Linked DNA regions of Homo sapiens. The protein of the gene in region 1 interacts with the protein of each later gene in a pairwise test. Each region holds a gene or a part of one and is shown on either strand. Other genes may lie near its edges.

Evidence for each region. The genes of interacting proteins can lie anywhere in the genome.
Region 2: the proteins of CCDC14 (region 1) and PEX5 interact in binary tests that used the Homo sapiens proteins (3 or more experiments, as listed by UniProt).
Region 3: the proteins of CCDC14 (region 1) and DDX6 interact in binary tests that used the Homo sapiens proteins (3 or more experiments, as listed by UniProt).
Region 4: the proteins of CCDC14 (region 1) and CEP63 interact in binary tests that used the Homo sapiens proteins (3 or more experiments, as listed by UniProt).

What each region holds. Positions count from the first base shown.
Region 1 is NC_000003.12:123,933,159-123,938,484, reverse strand, and holds part of CCDC14 (coiled-coil domain-containing protein 14), read left to right. Parts: intron 1-4,729; coding exon 4,730-4,812; intron 4,813-5,326. UniProt on the Homo sapiens protein: Negatively regulates centriole duplication. Negatively regulates CEP63 and CDK2 centrosomal localization.
Region 2 is NC_000012.12:7,199,119-7,204,444, forward strand, and holds part of PEX5 (peroxisomal biogenesis factor 5), read left to right. Parts: intron 1-2,632; coding exon 2,633-2,723; intron 2,724-3,122; coding exon 3,123-3,233; intron 3,234-3,493; coding exon 3,494-3,586; intron 3,587-4,313; coding exon 4,314-4,433; intron 4,434-5,326.
Region 3 is NC_000011.10:118,751,906-118,757,231, reverse strand, and holds part of DDX6 (probable ATP-dependent RNA helicase DDX6), read left to right. Parts: coding exon 1-61; intron 62-908; coding exon 909-972; intron 973-1,728; coding exon 1,729-1,830; intron 1,831-2,344; coding exon 2,345-2,520; 3' UTR 2,521-2,527; intron 2,528-5,134; 3' UTR 5,135-5,326.
Region 4 is NC_000003.12:134,491,990-134,497,315, forward strand, and holds part of CEP63 (centrosomal protein of 63 kDa), read left to right. Parts: intron 1-3,306; coding exon of another isoform or gene 3,307-3,331; coding exon 3,332-3,375; intron 3,376-5,326. UniProt on the Homo sapiens protein: Required for normal spindle assembly.

The sequences.
Region 1 (5,326 bases):
GAGTTAATAAGAAAGCTTAGCAAGGTTGCAGGATACAAGATCAATTGTATTTTTATGTGCCAGCAATGAACAATTTGAAATTAAATTTAAAATCAGTACTAGAGTAGCATCAAAAAAATATGAACAATTTAGGGATAAATTTGAAAAATATGTAAGACCCATACACTGAAAACTACAAAATATTGCTGAGAGAAATTAAAGATCAGTATAAGTGAGAGATAAACCAGATCCATAAATGTAAGACTTAAGATATCACTTCTCCCCAAATTGATGTATAGATTTTATGTAATTAAAGTAAAAACCCAAGCATGCTTTTTAAAAATATTTAATTGAAGCTGATTCTAAAGTTTACATGGAAATTTGAAGACTCTAAAGTACCCAAAACAGTATTGAGAAAGGAAAACCAAGTTGGTACTATTCAATTTCAAAACATAAAGGAATAGTATTCTAAGAGGTGTGGTGTAAAGGTGACAAATAGATCACTGAAACAGAATAGAGTCTAGAAACAAATTCACACATAGAGATAGTGTTTTGCAAAGATATCAGAGAAATTCAGTGGGGAAAGAATACTCTTTTCAATAAATAGTGCTGAAACAATGAGAGAGTCATGTTTTTAAAAAATGAACCTCAACCTTTACCTCATACAGTATACAAAATTGACTTGAAATGAATCACAGATCTTAATGTATAAACTAAAACTACAAAACCTCTGAAAGGAAACGTAAGAGAAAATCTTAGGGATTTTGGATTGGGAAAGATTTTAAAAATACAACACAAAAAATATAAACTAGAAAAAAATGAGTAAAGTGGACTTCATCAAAATTTAAAACTTCAGTTCTTCAAAAAACACTTATTAAAAATGAAGAAGCAACCAACAGACTGAGAGAAAATATTTGTAAAACATGTACCCGATAAAGGACTTGTATTAGAATGTATAAAGAACTTAAGACAGTATAAATTTTTAAATATCAAGTTGAAAAATGGGCAAAATATTTGAACAGACACTTCACCAAATAAGTGGATATCAAATATGAATATCAAATAAGAATATAGAAAGATGCTTATCAGTAATGATTAGGAAAGTGAAAATTAAAACCATGACAAAATACCACTGCATACCCATTAGAATGGCTAAAATTCAAAATTAATAAATGTTGGGATGTGAAGGATTTCACAATTAACTGATGGGAATGTAAAATAATTTGAACACTTTGGAAAAAAAGTTTGGCAGTTTCTTAGAAATTAAACATATATCTAACATATGATCCAGCCAGTCCACTCCTAGATATTTAAGAGAAGCCAAAGCATGTGTCCACACAGAAACTTGTTGATGAGTGTTCATAGGAAACAACCCAAATGTCTATCAATAGGTGAATGGATAAACAAATAGTGCTATATCCATACAGTAGAATACTACTCAACAATAAAAGGGTAAGAACTATTGATACATGCAACAGCATGGATGAATCCCAAAATTACTATGTTGAGTGAAGCCAGGCTAAAAGAGTATATATTCCATAATTCCATTTATATAAAATTCTAGAATATGCAAACTATAAATAAGTGCTTATCTGGGAGGAGAGAGTTATGAAAAGGGCTATGAGGAAACTTTAGGGGTGATGAATATGTTTTTTGAAAAATTTTTAGCTTTGAGGGTACACGTGAAGGTTTGTTACATAGGTAAACACGTGTCACAGGAGGTTTGTTATACATGTTATTACATCACCCAGGTATTAAGCCCAGTACACAATAGTTATCTTTTCTGCTTTTCTCCCTCCTACCACCTTCCCCTCCCTCCTACCATCCAGACCCCAGTGTCTGTTGTTTCCTTCTTTGTGTTAATAAGTTCTTATCATTTAGCTCCCACTTATAAGTGAGAATGTGGTATTTGCTTTTGTTTCTGCGTTAGTTTACTAAGGATGATAGCCTCCAGTTCCCTTCATGTTCTTGCAAAAAAACATGATCTCATTCTTTTTTATGGCTGCTGATGGATATCTTAATTGTGATGGTGGTTTTACTACATCATATGGCAGAAAATAAAATGACACACTTTAAATTTATGTAGTTTATAGTATGTCAGTTTTATCTCAAGCTGTCTAAAAAAAAAAGAATGACTTGAATAAAAGAAATATTTGCCTAAGTAGCAGCAGTTCTTTTCCTTTTTTAAAATCCAGTATATTTAAATTTCGTACATATCTTAAAATAGCATGTGTAACATCAATTTTTAAAATATCCTTTTTTCTGTTTTTATCATGTATCATTTTAAATAGAATATTTTTTTAAAAGCCTAGCCCTGAAAGCAGGGAATGAGAGGAATGAAAGTAGCTACTTGTACAGTTAGGTTGGAGGGAATTTTTTTAAAATATGGGAAGAGTTTTAATATGTTTCTTGGCTTAGGCACATGAACTGGCAAAGAGGGAGAAACTGCAGATACAGAAGATAAAGGGAGTGGGATAGGAGCAGAGTCCTTGATGGTCTAGGAGGAGAATGGGATCCAGGGCACAGATAAGGCTACTCATCAGACTAGATGGAAAAAATGAGGGCTAATACACATATGGATACACCCTGGGACCAAAGGATGACTGTGTTTGTCCCCAAACCACATTATTTTTAGTGAAAAAAGGAAAGTATACAATTGAGAAGAGGAGGGTAGGAATGAGAGGCTTGCAGTGAATTATTAGAAGTTTAGATTGGTTACGTTTGGGAAGAGAAGAATCTGACCAGGGACATACAAAAGGATTATCGAGGAAAGCTTCTGTTGTAAAGGGGAAACCTTTAAAGAAAATCAGAATTTTATTAAAACAAAAATAAGCTCACATTATACTGTTGTTCTGCAGCTTGCTGCTTTCACTTCATAATGTGTCTCAGAGATCTTTTCACGTCAGTACAAGTGGACCTCTCGCTTTTTTTATTATCTGTGTATTAGTATTTCATATATGGATGTACCATAATTTATGTAGCATTTTAAGTTGTTTCCAACTTGGCACTATTAAATAATTGCTGTTGTGAACATCCTTGTATGTATCTACAAGGTGGGAGATGCTTTTGCACATGTAAAACTGTTTCTGATGCTTGATAACCTAGAAGTAGAATAATTTTGTCAGAGATTATGAACATTTTACATTTTGTTGGACATTTCAAACTGCCATCCAGAATGGTTATACTGATATAATCACATGAATTGAGTTAATTCATTTCCTGTACTATCATCAGAAAATGTTATTTCTTTTTATTTTTGTCAATTCTATGGCCAAAAAGTACCTTCTTTTAAATTTGCAATTCTTCATGTTAGTGAAGATGAGCATTTTTATCATATGCTTATAGGCCATTTCTATTTCTTAGGTGAACTGCTCATTCTTATCCTTTGTCACTTTTTACTAGGTTGCCTTCCTTACTGATTTGTAGGAGTTCTTTAAATGTTATGGACCCCTTGTCTATAACATATGTGCAGGTATTTTCTTTCAGGCTTTTAATTCTACAGGTTTCAAATTTTGCTATGGTTAAATCTTTCGTTCTTTTCCTTGATGCTTGCTGGATATTGAGTTTCACTTAGAAATGCCTTCCCGACTTCAAGATTATGTAGATTTCCCCCTAAAACTTGTATAGTTGGGTTTTGTTTACATATTTTATCACTTTAATCAACTCGAAATTAATATATGTGAGTGATGTGAGGTAGGGTACTATCATTTTAGAGTTAGTACCAAAAATAAATATTTTAAGGCAAAATATTTTTAGGTAAGTAATTCTGGAAAGATAATAGAGGTAACTTTTGTCCCCATAAGCGATAACTTCTTAGAAGTAAAGAAAACACTTGCATATGTTTCTATTTGTGAAGCAGATACATATTGTGAAGTTCATTGTAACAGGGCAGATTTGTAGCCTGTTAATATTCTCGTTACTTAAGACCATTAACTTTTCCATCTAATAAAATTATTAGAAGCATAGATTTGTGTTTCAGCATATGACAAACATCAGGCAGATAGATGTCTGATAGCAGTCAGTGCTTGTAGGTATTCTAGTTGATAGTAATGACAAATCTTTTAAAAAGTAGATGATTAACTACAGTGATGAAGATACACAGAAAGACGATGAGAAACAGCATGAGCAGATAGAAAAGGAAAGAAATAGAAAAAAAACAACAAATCACTGAAGAGACAAAAAAGAGAAATTAACACTTTCCTCATGAGGGTTTTTTTTTTTTTTTTTTTTTTTTTGAGGCAGAGTCTCACTCTTTCGCCAGGCTGGAATGCAGTGGTGCGATCTCACTCACTGCAACCTCCACCTCCCAGGTTCAAGCAATTCTCCTGCCTCAGCCTCCCAAGTAGCTGGGATTACAGGCACGCGCCACTACGCCCAGCTAATTTTTGTATTTTTAGTAGAGATGGGGTTTCGCCATGTTGGCCAGGCTAGTCTCAAACTCCTGACCTCAGGTGATCCGCCCACCTCGACCTCCCAAAGTGCTGGGATTACAGGCGTGAGCCACCGCGCCTGGCCCATGAGGGGAGGTTTTATGTTGTTTCAGGCAACCTTAAAAATTATCTCAGGCCTCATAATAATAGTAGTATGGTTTTGTTTTTGTTTTGTTTATTTAGTTTTTGTCTTTTGGGGATGAGATGGACTTCTGCTGTCTTAGTGGGTTTATGTTTTATCTTTTTTGATAGGCTATCACATGTATACTATTAAATTGGCTTGGTATGCTTGCATTCATAGTTCTTCATTATTTCTTTAGGCAGTTGAGAATTTTGAACCAGCAACTCAGAGAACAACAGAAAACTCAAAAACCATCTGGTGCTGTGGATTGCAACCTTGAATGTAGGTAAAAGAACTTTAAGGATTGATAAATTATTTGTGGCTCCGGAAATGTTGATAAAGAATTGAGCTTTTGTAATTACTTTGAGGGGATAAATTTAAAATATTGTAGAAACATAAGAAAATAAAAGATGCTGTCACTTCCCAATAATATACACCTTTTTTTGTTTGTTTGTTTTGAAATACAGGAGTGTGTTTCCTTTTACATATCTTCTCTTCATATATAATTGATTTATTTAACACTTACTGAATACCTACTGTGTGCCAGGCACAAATAGAACTATATATGTACTTTTTTAAAAATGAGATCACACTGTACATACTTTTCCACAGCTTCTGTTTATTCACTTAACATATAATGGACACTTTTGTCTATCAAAATACATAATTATGCATCTTTCTCTTTAAGAATTACTTGGGTATTCTGCTTATCCAGGTCTACCATAATATGGTCCTTTGCTAATAGTACTTTCCCCTTTTTTCCCAGTGCAAACAACATTGCAGTGAAAATCTTTGT
Region 2 (5,326 bases), on another chromosome or scaffold:
TTCAGATACCTCTTTCCGAATCCCGTGAAAGGAGTATGGACAGTTTTCCCAGCCTCCTCCATCCACGTTCTCGAACCAACTTACTTTATTCTTTTTTTTTTTTTTTTTTATCATTCTTGGGTGTTTCTTGCAGAGGGGGATTTGGCAGGGTCATAGGACAATAGTGGAGGGAAGGTCAGCACATAAGCAAGTGAACAAAGGTCTCTGGTTTTCCTAGGCAGAGGACCCTGCGGCCTTCCGCAGTGTTTGTGTCCCTGGGTACTTGAGATTAGGGAGTGGTGATGACTCTTAAAGAGCATGCTGCCTTCAAGCATCTGTTTAACAAAGCACATCTTGCACCGCCCTTAATCCATTTAACCCTGAGTGAACACAGCACATGTTTCAGAGAGCACAGGGTTGGGGGTAAGGTCATAGATCAACAGGATCCCAAGGCAGAAGAATTTTTCTTAGTACAGAACAAAATGAAAAGTCTCCCATGTCTACTTCTTTCTACACAGACACAGCAACCATCGGATTTCTCAATCTTTTCCCCACCTTTCCCCCTTTTCTATTCCACAAAACCGCCATTGTCATCATGGCCCGTTCTCAATGAGCTATTGGGTACACCTCCCAGACGGGGTGGTGGCCAGGCAGAGGGGCTCCTCACTTCCCAGTAGGGGCGGCCGGGCAGAGGCGCCCCTCACCTTCTGGACGGGGCGGCTGGCCGGGCGGGGGGCTGACCCCCACCTCCCTCCCGGACGGGGCGGCTGGCCGGGCAGGGGGCTGACCCCCACCTCCCTCCCGGACGGGGCGGCTGGCCGGGCGGGGGGCTGACCCCCACCTCCCTCCTGGACGGGGCGGCTGGCCGGGCGGGGGGCTGACCCCCCGCCTCCCTCCCGGACGGGGCGGCTGGCCAGGCGGGGGGCTGACCCGCACCTCCCTCCCGGACGGGGCGGCTGGCCGGGCGGGGGGCTGACCCCCACCTCCCTCCCGGACGGGGTGGCTGCCGGGCGGAGACGCTCCTCACTTCCCAGACGGGGCGGCTGCCGGGCAGAGGGTCTCCTCACTTCTCAGACGGGGCGGCCGGGCAGAGACGCTCCTCACCTCCCAGACGGGGTCGCGGCCAGGCAGAGGCGCTCCTCACATCCCAGACGGGGCGGCGGGGCAGAGGCGCTCCTCACATCTCAGACGATGGGTGGTCGGGCAGAGACGCTCCTCACTTCCTCGATGGGATGGCGGCTGGGAAGAGGCGCTCCTCACTTCCTAGATGGGATGGCGGCCGGGCAGAGACGCTCCTCACTTTCCAGACTGGGCAGCCAGGCAGAGGGGCTCCTCACATCCCAGACGATGGGCGGCCAGGCAGAGACGCTCCTCACTTCCCAGATGGGGTGGCGGCCAGGCAGAGGCTGCAATCTCGGCACTTTGGGAGGCCAAGGCAGGCGGCTGGGAGGTGGAGGTTGTAGCGAGCCGAGATCACGCCACTGCACTCCAGCCTGGGCACCATTGAGCACTGAGTGAACGAGACTCCGTCTGCAATCCCGGCACCTCGGGAGGCCGAGGCTGGCGGATCACTCGCGGTTAGGAGCTGGAGACCAGCCCGGCCAACACAGCGAAACCCCGTCTCCACCAAAAAAATACGAAAACCAGTCAGGCATGGCGGCGCGTGCCTGCAATTGCAGGCACTCGGCAGGCTGAAGCAGGAGAATCAGGCAGGGAGGTTGCAGGGAGCCGAGATGGCAGCAGTACAGTCCAGCTTCGGCTCGGCATCAGAGGGAGACCGTGGAAAGAGAGGGGGAGAGAGACCGTAGGGAGAGGGAGAGGGAGAGGGAGAGGGCTTACTTTATTCTTTAAGATTTCCCCTTGGGTTATTACTCCTGTGAATTTATGGTTGAAATGTAGTCAAGGACACAGTGGTTGTGTGCCTGTACTCAGGAAGCTGAGGTGGGAGGATTGCTTGGGCCCAGGAGGTCAAGTCTAGCCCGAGGAACACAGTAAGACCTTGTCTTTAAAAAACCAAAAGCGCATGCATGTGTGCGTGCACACACACACACGCACACACATATATACACACATACACATATGTACACACGCATACATACACATACATGTGCACATACATGTATATACACACGTATACATATGTAAACATGTAGATACATGCGTACACATGTATACACACACATAGACATACATGTATACACACATACACATACACATGTATATACATACACACATACACGTATATATACATATCAGCTATATTTGGGAGGAAGGGAGTTTTCAGACTTTTAAAATATATGTATATAGGTAAATATATATATATTTTTCAAGAATCCTAACTATCCTATATGACGTTCATAACTTCATCTTAAAGTTCATAATTTTACCTTGTTCCCTTCTTAATTTTGAGCCTGCTACTATCCCATCTGTATGCAAAGATATGTTTGGGAAAGGGAGAGCTAGAAGGATGTAGCTAGTACTTTCACACTCCTGCCCAAATGTCCTTCTATAATGCAAATTGGAGTTTGTAGGTTCTCAACAGGAGAATGGAGTTCCCTCACAGGAACTGTCATTGTCATGGGCTAGGAGTGGGGAGTAGCATGGGGAGGGTGATGGCAGACTAATGTGTAAAATTAGTTCTTACCCGTTCCAGGTATGATGAATATCATCCTGAGGAGGATCTGCAGCACACGGCCAGTGACTTTGTGGCCAAAGTGGATGACCCCAAATTGGCTAATTCTGAGGTGAGCCACATCCCTCTGCTGCTTTGCCCAGCAGAGCTGGTTTTGGAAGGCAAGAATCTTGCTTTTCTTACCCCAGTTTAGTTTAAAGAGAAGGAGAAGAGATCTTAGGTCTCTTCGTTCCTGTCTATAGAACAGAGACTTAAGATCCTGCCTCTTCCTTCTAGTGTTCATTCCCTCATCTCCTTGCCTACTAACTCTTTTTTCTGATGCCTTTGCAAGTCTTTAGAGCCAGAAATCCCTTTCTTTTTGCTCTCTACCTCTTTTAGGGTCTTTAGCATATCTTGTCTGCAGCTAGAGATGGTCAGGGGAGGGGTGAGTACAGGGTCCTCTTGGGCATGGTTGAGAGTGCACACCTGGAAGTCCTTTCCCAAGTGGCCTGTGTGTGTCTCTGTGCCCCAGTTCCTGAAATTCGTGCGGCAGATTGGCGAAGGGCAGGTGTCCCTGGAGTCCGGTGCAGGGTCGGGCCGAGCTCAGGCAGAACAGTGGGCAGCAGAGTTTATACAGCAGCAGGTAGGACATTGTCACTTTCCAGTCCCACTTCAGAGCCAGCTGATGCCCCAGGCCATGGGTTCAGTGGTCAGTGGTCCCAGATGGGGAAGGATAAGACCAGCTTGTCTTGATAGCATCCAGGTCCCAAGTGGGTGGGAAAGAGATTCTGAGAATGATTTTCTCAGAAGTACCCAGGTTGGTGGTGGTTAGTGGGTATTTAGTGTGCGTCTGATGGATAGAAAGTTGGTGGTAGTGGTACTGACCATCCTTTTTTGTCGCAGGGTACATCAGATGCCTGGGTTGACCAGTTCACAAGACCAGTAAACACATCTGCCCTTGATATGGAGTTTGAACGAGCCAAGTCAGCTATAGAGGTGAGAGCAGATAGTGCAGGAGCAGACACCCCAAAAGAAAACACTCCTTGGAGTGAGTGGGTGTATGAACATCAAAGATGATGCAAATTGTATTTCATAGTGGACCTGGATCATCTGTGTCAGAGTTGCTTGGGGATGGGGTGGGTGCTGTTGAAAAATGCAGATTTCTGGGCCAGGCATGGTGGCTCATGCCTGTAATCTCAGCACTTTGGGAGCCCGAGGTGGGTGGATCACCTGAGGTTAGGAGTTCGAGACCAGTCTGAACAACATGGAGAAACCCCATGTCTCTACTAAAAATACAAAATTAGCGTGGTGTGTTGGCGCATGCCTGTAATCCCAGCTACTTGGGAGGCTGAGGCAGGAGAAATGTTTGAAACTGGGAGGTGGAGGTTGCAACGAGATGAGATCACGCCATTGCACTCTAGCCTGGGCAACGAGAGTGAAACTCTGTCTCAAACAAAAAACTAAACTAAACTATGCACTGCACTGCACTGCACTGCACTGCACTGCACTGCACTACATTACATTTCTGGCCATCACCCCAGACTACTAAATCAGTATCTGGGGATAGCATCTGGCCATTTGCATTTTAAAAAACTTATTCAGATGATTCTTAAACATATTGAAATTCAAGAACTGCTGCCTTAGAGAATCCCAGCAGAGCTGAGTGTGGGGTGGGGTGGTCATGATGGATCTCCTTTTTCTATCTGCTTTCCCTTCCTTACAGTCTGATGTCGATTTCTGGGACAAGTTGCAGGCAGAGTTGGAGGAGATGGCAAAACGGGATGCTGAGGCCCACCCCTGGCTTTCTGACTATGATGACCTTACGTCAGCTACCTATGATAAGGTGAGGTAAAAACTCTTAGTTTTTCAGGTTCCAGAACTTCCTTCTTTTTAACGTCTTTCCTTTAATCCTGAATTTGAAGGGTGCTTTTAAGTATTTTCTTGAGTCCCTTTCCACGAAAAGAAGTCTGAATAATTCCCTTGCCCTTCCTCTTCAGTGATTGAGTATAAACTTTATTCTTGGGATATAGATGTTAATGAGACTATCTTTGTCAATAACGACAGTCCAGTACATAACACCTGTGAAGGAGGTTTGCACATGCTTGCTGCATTAAAAGCACAGAGGAAGTAGCTCTGCTTGGAGGTCAGATTGGGAGCTTTTTGAGAAGACTGCTGACTCCTTTGGTGGGGAGTGTTAGTGGACAGACTATCCCTTTGCCTCCACATCTTAATATCTGTTTACTTTTTAAACTCACATATTCATTTTAAGTTCTTATCTTTTATAGGTAGTAGCCACTTGCCCTAATTTAGGGTTTTCAAAGAATTTATATTAGATAACTTAAATATTAGGGAAATTTCTTAGTAGTATGAAAGATGATTGCATTTTGCCTATAGCATGTGCTGTTGACTTAGAAGCATATGTTACTTCTGGGGTCTTACTGAAAAACAAATCTACCTGTGGGTTGTAGGATATTTGGGGATGTGTTTAATAACTGAGCTCCTGAGTTGAAACATGAAGAGGGGAAAGAATCACTTGGTTTTGAAAAAAGGCAAAACAGGAACTGGGGATGTGAGTAGTGATGTCTTTTTCTCAGTTCAGATCTGGTTGGGAAAGTATTGTGGGGCTGGAACCAGGGCCTGAGATGCAAACCAGGGTGCTGGAGATGGATCTTGATGTAATAAGGGAGCTATGCAAAGATGGGAAGATGCAGTTCAGAAAAAGGCTAGAGTTTGAGA
Region 3 (5,326 bases), on another chromosome or scaffold:
AGCCAAGAAGATTTCTCAACTGGGTTATTCTTGCTTCTATATTCATGCTAAAATGAGGCAGGTGAGTATAAAACTAGAACTTGCACAAATTTAATAAGAAATCTCTTTCTTTATTTTGTTTTAATGTTCTTTTAAATGTCCTGAGTTTAAGAATAAACTGTTCCTTAGTAGCCAAAGGACCTTTCATTTTGACCTCCCTCAGGTTCAATTTTCTAGCAATAAAATAGGGATAATAGTACATATTCATAACTTACAAGGTTGTTAGGAAAATTAAGATAAATGTTTAAATGAGTACTTTGGAAGCTGTCAGGCATGATACAAATGTAAAATTTTATTCTTCCCTTCCTTTCCATGTTTAATTCTCTGTTTAATACAGTAAATAGCCACATGTGGCAATTTAAATCAGTTAAAATTAAAATAAAAAGTCAGTTTCTCAATCACAGCCACATTTCAAGTGCTCAGTTAGGCACCTGTTGCTACTGGATAGTGTATTGGAATTGGAAGTACAGACACAAATATTTCCTTTATTATAGAAGTTTTACTGGACAGCACTGCTCTGGATTTTTAAATATGGCCCCTCAGCTGGCTGATTTTTCTTTTTTTCTTTACTGTTTGCCTTTAGAAAAAGATACAATATCTAAATTTCAGAATTTGATTTAGCAAAAAATAATTTAAAACTGTAACAAAAATGACTTTTTTGTTAACTACATTATGAAATTTCGTAAGTAAACAGTTTCTGTAGACGAAGATATCAAGAACTTAACTCATTTGGTTTTGAAAGCAGCTTAATATCATGGATCACTTATAAACAGATTTTGGGTAGAACTGATCGTCTGGGAGAAATAATTATGGGAAATTTGGGGCTGTATATGAGTGTTAATCAAATGGAATACATTGCTTTCTCCTAGGAACATCGAAATCGTGTATTTCATGATTTCCGAAATGGCTTATGCCGCAATCTTGTTTGCACTGGTAAGTATTTTTGTATTTCCTTTACCCAGTGTTTTTCTCCCAAGTTGTTTTTTGCTTTCTCTGTTCATATTACATAGTGCAACCTGTGACATAGTCCGACACACCCTACCACTACTTCTAGGATTTCTGAAGTTGAAAATGAACTCTTGTCAGCTCCTGATACTGGGTTCCATATCTGAAACTTTAGAAGACTTACTCTGGCACTCATACCTCATCTCTGTCTTTTTTTTGGGGGGGGGGGGGAGGGGGATGGAATCTTTGTCACCCAGGCTGGAGTGCAGTGGTGCGATCTTGGCTCTCTGAAACCTCCACCTCCTGGGTTCAAGTGATTCTCCTGCCTCAGCCTCCCAAGTAGCTGGGATTGTGGGCGCCTGCTACCGCTTAGCCCGGCTAATTTTTGTATTTTTGGTAGAGACAGGGATTTCACCATGTTGGCCAGGCTGGTCTCGAACTCCTGACCTCAGGTGATCTTCCTGCTTTGGTCTCCCAAAGTGCTGGGATTACAGGCTTGAGTGCACCCAGCCTCTTTTAGACACATTTTTTAAAACTTGCTTACAATTACTGGAAAAAAGTAACTTGGGAGCAGAAAGTTATTTATGATAATGTGATTATGAAAGGTAATGCCAGTAATGTGCAAATGCATTTGAATAACTGAATTAAATTAATAAACTTAGGTTATGCTAGAAATATGTGTTAGTATTGTACTGAGAGACATTTCTAAATTGAAAAAATGAAAATTATCTTTTTTTTTTTAAGATCTGTTTACCCGAGGTATTGATATACAAGCTGTGAATGTGGTAATAAACTTTGATTTCCCAAAGCTGGCAGAGACCTATCTCCATCGTATTGGAAGATCAGGTGAGGAAAAAAGAGGTGATATTCTTGGTAGAAGTTCTTTTTTGAGGCGTGTAATGACTAAATTTTGTTCTTTTGTGAAATAGAGTACAGTAGCTATGAGAACAGTGAATTAACAGTAATTCAGTTGTTTGGTATTTAAGACTAATTTCTAATTCTTCTGTAGCATTTATTAAGAAAAGTTAAAATAACTGCTTAATTTGAGATGAAATTAACACATGAGAACTTCACTCATTAGGTGGTATGTTCTGTGACTGTTGTTTAATGTGTATTTTATGGCAGTTTTGACTGCCATTTTGTCATTTGAGAAAGGTGAAATGAAGTACTATTTTGGGCTGCGAAACCTGAAGTTGTAGGGAAACCTGTGTTTGAAGACCATTAAGAAGTTGTTTTGCATACTAAGAATGGCACTGAACATCATTATCAATCCTGTGTGGTTTTGCCACTGCTTGACTTGCACAATTCACATTGATTTTCATATTTTATTCATTAAAATTTTTAAACGCATGTTTTTTAGGTCGCTTTGGTCATCTTGGCTTAGCCATCAACTTGATCACATATGATGATCGCTTCAACCTGAAAAGTATTGAGGAGCAGCTGGGAACAGAAATTAAACCTATTCCGAGCAACATTGATAAGAGCCTGTATGTGGCAGAATACCACAGCGAGCCTGTAGAAGATGAGAAACCTTAACAAGCATGTACGTCCCTGACAGAACAGCTAAGAGGAACCTTTAAATGAGGGAAATCAAAATCTTCTTTCCTGGGGGAAATTTGATGTCACACCATATATAATAGCAATAAAGGGTAAAATACCCACTAGCATAAATGACAGTAAATAATATCTCTTGTGGGAGGTTGTAGTCTCATTCGAGAATCTGTAAATGTTGTTCTTGAATGCAGCTTCCCGGGTAATGTGGTAGATTAGCAGTACTTAAATTCAGAGTCCTAAAATAATGAAAGCAAAAAAGAATGTTTTTCAGCAATTTGTTTTTCTTTTTGAGACAAGGTCTCACTGTCATCCAGGCTGGAGTGCAGTGGTGCAATCATAGCTCACTGCAGCCTGGTTCTCCTGGGCTCCTGAGTAGCTGGAACTGTAGGCACATGCCACCACGCCTGCCTAATGTTTTAAATTTTTGGTAGAAACAAGGTCTTGCTTTGTTGCCTAGGCTGGTCCAGAACTCCTGAACTCCAGCAGTCCTCCTGCCTTGGCTTCCCAAAGTGTTAGGATTATAGGCGCAAGCCACTGTGCCACTGTGCCTGGCCTTTTTTGACAGTTTTGTAGGGGGGATTTTTGTTGTTTTTGTTTTTTGAGAGTCTTGCTCTGTTGCCCAGGCTGGAGTACAGTGGCACAATCACGGCCCACTGCAACCTCTGCCTCCCAGGTTCAAGCGATTCTGGTGCACCTCAGCCTCCCAAGTAGCTGGAATTACAGGCATGCTCCACCATGCCCAGCTAATTTTTGTATTTTTTAGTAGAGTTGGAGTTTCACCATGTTGGCCAGGTTGGTCTTGAACTCCTGACCTCAAGTGATCTACCCGCCTCAGCCTCCTAAAGGGAGGCTGGGATTACAGGTGTGAGCCACCACACTGCCAGCAGTTTTGAATATGAAAGTATTTACATTTCTGAAAATGTAAAATGTTTTTAGCATTTACTCTTAATTTCTAGTAAGTACATTAATCACTCTGATAAAACTATCCATAATACCTTATTAGCAAATGTTTAATCAGATTATGAGGATGGCCATCTTTTTAAAATACCCACTCTGGGCCGGGTGCGGTGGCTCACACCTGTAATCCCAGTACTTTGGGAGGCCGAGGTGGGCGGATCACGAGGTCAAGAGATCGAGACCATCCTGGCCAACATGGTGAAACCCTGTCTCTACTAAAAATACAAAAATTAGCCGGGCATGGTGACACGCACCTGTAGTCCCAGCTACTCGGGAGGCTGAGGCAGGCGAATCACTTGAACCTGGGAGGTGGAGGTTACAGTGAGCTGAGACCGCACCACTGCACTCCAGCCTGGGTGACAAAGCTAGACTCCATCTCAAAAAAAAAAAAAAAAAAAAAGCCACTTGGGCTGGCTCAGTGGCTCACACCTGTAATCCCAGCACTTTGGGAGGCCGAGGTGGGTGGATTACCTGAGGTCAGGACTTCAAGACCAGCCTGGCCAACCTGGTGAGACCCCGTGTCCACTAAAGATACAGAAAATTAGCCAGGCATGGTGGCGGGCGCCTGTAATCCCAGCTAGTCAGGAGGCTGAGGCAGGAGAATCTCTTGAACCTGGGAGGCAGAGGTTGCAGTGAGCCGAGGTCATGCCATTGCACTCGAGCCTGGGCGATAAGAGTGAAACTCTGCCTCATATATAAATAACCCACTCTGATTTCCTAGGTAATAAGAGTGAAACTCCGTCAAATACATAAATAAAATACCCACTCTGATTTCCTGGACAACCTGTCTTCCCATCTTTTTTTTATTTTTATTAAGATGGGATCTCACTATGTTGCCCCGGCTGGTTTCAAACTCCTGGGTTCAAATGATCCTCCCACTTTGGCTTCCCAGAGTGCTGGGATTATAGGTGTGAGCCACCACGCCCTGCCTCTATCATCTTTTGGTGACTATTGGGCTCTAGTTAGAAATGCATGAAACAAGGCTCAGCTTTAAGCAAGGTAGGTTGTTTCAGTATTTCCTAAAGAAAATCTGATTTGACAAAGGATAGTTTCCAAGTTATAGGTGAACATCTTACCTATTTAAGTAACCTAATGTTACTTAAATTTTTTTTCTCTTTCTTTTTTAAATAGAGACGAGGATTTACCATGTTGGCCAGGCTGGTCTCAAACTCCTGACCTCAGGTGATCCGCCCACCTCAGCCTCCCAGAGTGCTGAGATTACTGGCAGGAGCCACCTCACCCAACCAATTGTTACTTAAATAATTTTTAAATTACTCTGTACTCTTTTTTTCCTTAAGTTAAACATCAAACACAAACTCTTGGACAAGCATGAAACTAGCCAATGTTTGCTAGTACTTTGGCAGAGTATTCAGTTTGTGTAAGGTTAATTTTTTTCCCCCGGATTTGTTACGAGTGAGGGCTGCCTGCTATCAGAACATTCACATTCATTCAGGCCCCCAATCTATCTCAGGGTTGCCTACCAGAAATTATTTAATCCTATAACCAGTAGATTCTATAGTAGGCACAGGGTTAGTAGAAACTACTAGAAAAGAGCATTTGGGATGAGGATTGTGAAAACCTATGTATCCTAGTTTGTGTTGCTTTCAGAATGTTAATTTTGTATTCTCTTCTTCTGTAGGCTTTGACAAATTACAAAAGGCTCGTTTGGATCTGTGACACATCGTTTTGGGGGGAATGCTCCTCTCTTTGTGGGTTTTTCATCTTTTATTTTGGAACTATGAAGACTTAAAAGAGCTCAGACATTTTCTTTTTTTAACTGGTGAAGAGAAAAAGGCTGAAAAGAAGGAATATACCTTTTTTGTTCCACTTG
Region 4 (5,326 bases), about 11 Mb from region 1:
CCTGAAGTGCTTTCTAGCTCATAAAGTCTATGTTAATGAATTTCAAAGATTTGCCTATTATAAGACATTCTATTTGTATTCTTTTTTTTTTTTTTTTTTTTTGAGACGGAGTTTTGCTCTGTCGCCCAGGCTGGAGTGCAGTGGCGCGATCTTGACTCACTGCAAGCTCCGCCTCCCGGGTTCACGCCATTCTCCTGCCTCAGCCTCCCGTGTAGCTGGGACTACAGGCGCGCGCCACCATGCCCGGCTAATTTTTGTATTTTTAGTAGAGACGGGGTTTCACCGTGTTAGCCAGGATGGTCTAATTTTATGTAATTATATGGCACATGCAAAGAAGAAATCAAAGTGACATAGTGCATAGAGTTGAATGATGGTCAGGTTGGTTAGGAAAAGAATCAGTGATATAACTATGAGCAACTCAGATGACAAACATCCACAGAAAATCAGCCCTTACTATTTGCCTGATCCTGAGAATTGATGGTGTTTGGCACCAGGCAGATGGTGAAGGTATTACAGAAACACTTTGCACATTAGTAAGTTTACTTTATTTCTCACATAGGATATTACTGGTCCACTTCCCTCCTTTTTTTTTTTTTTTTTAAACAGGAATCTCTATCTTAGACCATTTTGATTTCTAAAATAGCAATATTTCTTATGTGACTATTTCATTATTGTGCTGCTGCCACCTGGTGGCCACAGTAGTGATGTCATACTTCAGTTTAATTTCTTTTTTTATTGCAAAGACACTATTAAGCCAAAAGATAGGCTGATATATTTTAAGATATAGAATACTGTAAAATATATAAAGGTTGCACATCGATTGTGACTCAATTGATTGCCACAATGTCTAGGTTGAATCCAGGACTATAATTTTTAGTTTATCATAGTCAAGTTATTTAACTCTCTAAGCCTGTTTTCTCAAAGTAATAGTATCTGTCTTTTATGAGTATAGTGAAGATTGATTTAGACAATGTGTACAAGGCAGCTGTTGAACATTCAGTAACTTAACTTCTAAGTATATTATTAAATAGTCATAGAAAATATATTAATGTATATTACTAAATATATTAATGTTTAAGAATAACATGACCTAAATAAGTATAATTTTACTAATGATAATTTTGAATAACTGTGATAGCACTGTCAATAAGAATAGCACTTTCCTACATGTTAGTTAAGTATCCGTGTATGGTTGTCAGGAGCATGCTACTTACAGTGGACATTTAATTGGCTGTTAGAACCCATGAAAAAGCTGGAAGAAACCTTAGAGAATATTGTTCATGCCCCTCATTTTGCAGATGTTAAAACAAGTCCGAGAATATAAAGCTAGTTAGTTGCAGAGTAGGACTGTATCCTGGGTCTCCATCTAGTGTGGTGTGGACCGTGTACTGCCTCCCAGTTCTCCTAGAGTGGACCAAAACATGGAATCTTGGTTGCATTGTAGTTGGACTGTATTGTGATTTGAAAGTGGAGTAAAACATGGGAACCTTTTTCTTTAGGTTTTTATTTTTGCAATTTTGGTGTAATATGTAGGATAAACCAACTAGAAAAAAAATCCTCCCTGTCACGTTTGTGCACAAATAATTTAATACTCAGTTTGTTAGTATCTTTAAAAATAGATGCAAATAAGGTGCAGTGGTTCTATTTTCCAGTCTTCTCATTCTCCTCTGTGTCTCTGGAACACCCTGGGCATGTCTCTCACTATATTTATCACACTGGGAAAGCCTTTTTGGCTCATTTTTTTCTGTCCCATACTAGACTATTAATACCTTGAAAGGGGCCATATCTTTCATCACTATATATCTAGTTGTTAGTACAACATTGAATTACGTGTTGAGTAAAATAATCTACTTCTTACAGCAGTATAATTTTTAGATGAGGATTAGCCCAGGGGCAGAACCTCTACACCACAGTCTGGTTATTGTCTTAAGGGTTTAAGGAAAAAGCATTTTGGAATGAAAAGTGGTTTGACATTGAACATTTTGAAGATTTATTATAAAAGGCGAGAAGCATACACATATTAATCAACACTACTGAGTTTAAGGGTCCTCTTTCCTTTCTCACTGTCACCTTTCTTCATGGTGTATCTTACCCTTTATTTTATATTTATTTATTTATTTATTTATTTATTTATTTATTTATTTGAGATGGAATCTCTGTCTGCCACCCAGGCTGTAGTGCAATGGTGTGATCTCGGATCACTGCAACCTCCGCCTCCCGACTTCAAGCGATTTTCCTACCTCAGCCTCCCCATGGCTGGAACTACAGGTGCATGCCACCATGCCCAGCTAATTTTTTTTTTTTTTGGTAGAGGCGGAGTTTTACCATGTTGGCCAGGCTGGTCTCAAACTCCTGACCTCAGGTGATCCGCCTCCCTCGGCCTCCCAAGTTCTAGGATTACAGGCGTGAGCCACCGCACCCAACTGTATCTTGCTGTTTATATGGCAGTCTTCTATCTCCCGTTCCCTCTTTCTCTGCTAGACCCTTCATGTAGTTCCCCAGCTGTGACCAGTTTGCATGGGGGAGAGGGTAGGTAAAAGAGGGAGGGGAGTTAAGTTCAGCCAAAATAATCTGCCACGTGCCATGTTGAAATGCTGCGTTGAGCTCTGCAGCTGCAGAGATGAATAAAATTGGGTTTCTGCCCTGGAGGGATGAATAGTCTAGTAAGGAAAAATAGTATGTAAAAAACTCACTTCCAGTGTGGTGCAACTCCTATGAAAGAACGTATTAAGCACTGGGAGCAAATGAAGTGCAGAGGTGGGAGGGCCCTGTGGCTGCCTTTCGGTGGAGAGAGGATGTTGCATGCAGGAAGCTCTATGAGCCTGTCTTCAGGAGTGAGTAGGCTTTCCCATGATAGACCAAAGAGTTTAATCTCAGTACACTTCGCATTTTTTATACTATCTCTTTAATTTTTAAAAAGCTATACTTTCCCTCTGACATGTGTGAACCCATTTCTTTCTCATTTTGTTAAGGGAGTTTGTGTATCCGTCTGCTAGAGAGATCCCACCTCCACCCCTGCTCACCCGACATTAGGAATTAGGCAAAGAACAATGAGATATTTGATATTTACACGGAGAGAGTGTCAACCGCAATTCAGATATTTTTAAGTTATTCTGTTTTAGTCCGAAATAGTTTGTTCCTAGTATTCCTGAAGTGATGTTCTTTGACTGCTTCTACAGTCATCTTAAGAAGTGCTGCATTTTTTCATTATTATGTATGCTTTCATTCACATTCTTAAGTTGTAAGTTAGAATGTTAGAACTGAAGAAATGAATTGTCTCATGACTGATATTTTTTTCTTTGTCAGTTGCCAAAACAAAGGGGATTTGGTGATGGAGGCTTTGTTAGAAGGAATACAAAATCGAGGGCATGGTGGGTAAGTTTGCTTTTTTTAAAATTAATTTTTTTGGTTAATACATGATTACATATTTATAGGGTTCACATGATACTTTGATACATACATATAATGTGTAATGATCAAATAAGGGTATTTAGTATACCTATCAGCTCAAGCATTTATCATTTTTTGTGTTGGGAACATTTCAATTCTTCTAGCTACTTTGAAATATATAGTAAATTTTTAAAGTTTAAGGAACCTTACTGTGCTAGTCACCCGACTGTGCTAATTACTTAACTAGTTACATACTAGTTACTTAGTAGTCACCTTACTGTGCTATTTAACACTAGAGCTTACTCTTCTACCTAACTGTATGGTTTGTACCCATTAACCAAACATTCTTCACCCCCAACCCCTTCCCAGCCTCTGGTAACCATCGTTCTACTCTCTACCTCCATGAGGTGAACTTTTTTAGACCCCACATATGAATGAGAACATGAGATATTTGTCTTTCTGTGCCTATTATTTCACTTAACGACCACCAGTTTTATCCATGTTGCTGCAAATAACAGGGCTTCATTCTTTTTTATGGCTGAATAGTATTCCATGATGGATATATTTCTGACATTTTCTTTATCCATTAATCTGCTGTTGGACACTCAAGTCAATTCCATATCTTGGTTATTGTGAATAATGCTGCAATAAACATGGGGGTACAAGTATCCCTTTCACATACTGATTTCCTTTCCTTTGGATAGATTACCCAATAGTGTGCTTTCTGAATCATATGTGTTGTGAGTGGTGCAAAGTCAGACATAACCAGGTCCATACATGTTTGTGTCTTTTCTACAAGAGCAAACTTTTATTGATGCTATTTCAGTCATAAAAGCCACAAGCTACATGGAGTTCCCAAGGAGGCATTTCCCCCTAGTACTACCAGTTCACTCAATAGTCAGAGCCATGGGCATACAGGCTCAAGCCTCTCCACAAGTCAGTCAGTATTGCAAACCATACATAATAGTGTATTAATATATGTAAATGTTGCAGTGTAAACATTCCACATCAAACAAAGTAACATTTAACAGGAGAAAAGGATAGAAAAAAAAGGGGGGGGGGGCTAAAGAACTAGTCCAAAGAGAACAACTGGACAAAGAGAATATTCTGGCCTGATCTGGACGGTTGTCAACATTCTTGCAAGGAGGAGCCTTTGGTGACAGATGCCAGGTGCTGATCACAAGTGACAGCCAGACAGGCTGTTATCAAGACAGCTGTTTTGAGCTGGTAAAGTCTTGCTCTTTTTGTGGCCACAGAATCTTCTGGTGATAACTGATAGTGAAATATTGTGCCTGTTTATGTCATTATCTGATTGAGTGCAGTCTTTATTGATAAGGTGAACATCGGGTCCCTGTGGGCATGATGTCTTTTGAAATGTGAGATGCAATCTCTTTCTAAAATGGAGTTACTTATGTTAAGGGTGCTATATACAATATGGTAGTTCTATTTTTAGTTTTTTAGAAAACTCCATTTAGTTTTCCATAATGGCTGTACTAATTTTACATTCTCACCAACAGCATATGAGAGTTCCCTTTTGTCCACATCCCCCCCAGCATTTGTTATATTTTGTCTTTTTGATAATCATTCTAACTGGGGTGAGATGAATCATTGTGGTTTTCACTTGCATTTTCCTGGTGATTTAGTGGTGTCGACCATTTTTTCATACACCTTTTGGCCATTTGTATGTCTTCTTTAGAGAAATGTCTATTCAAATCCTTTGCCCACATTTTAATAGGGTTTTTTGTTTTTTTGCTGTTGAGTTGTTTTTCTTGTATATTCTGGATGTTTAGTCCCTTGTTGAATGAATAGTTTGCAAATATTTTCTCCCATTCTACAAGTTGTCTTTGACTCTATTGTTTCCTTTGCCGTGCAAAAACTTTTTAGTTTAACTAGGTCCCAATTGTCGGTTTTTGTTTTGGTTGCCTGTGCTTTTGAA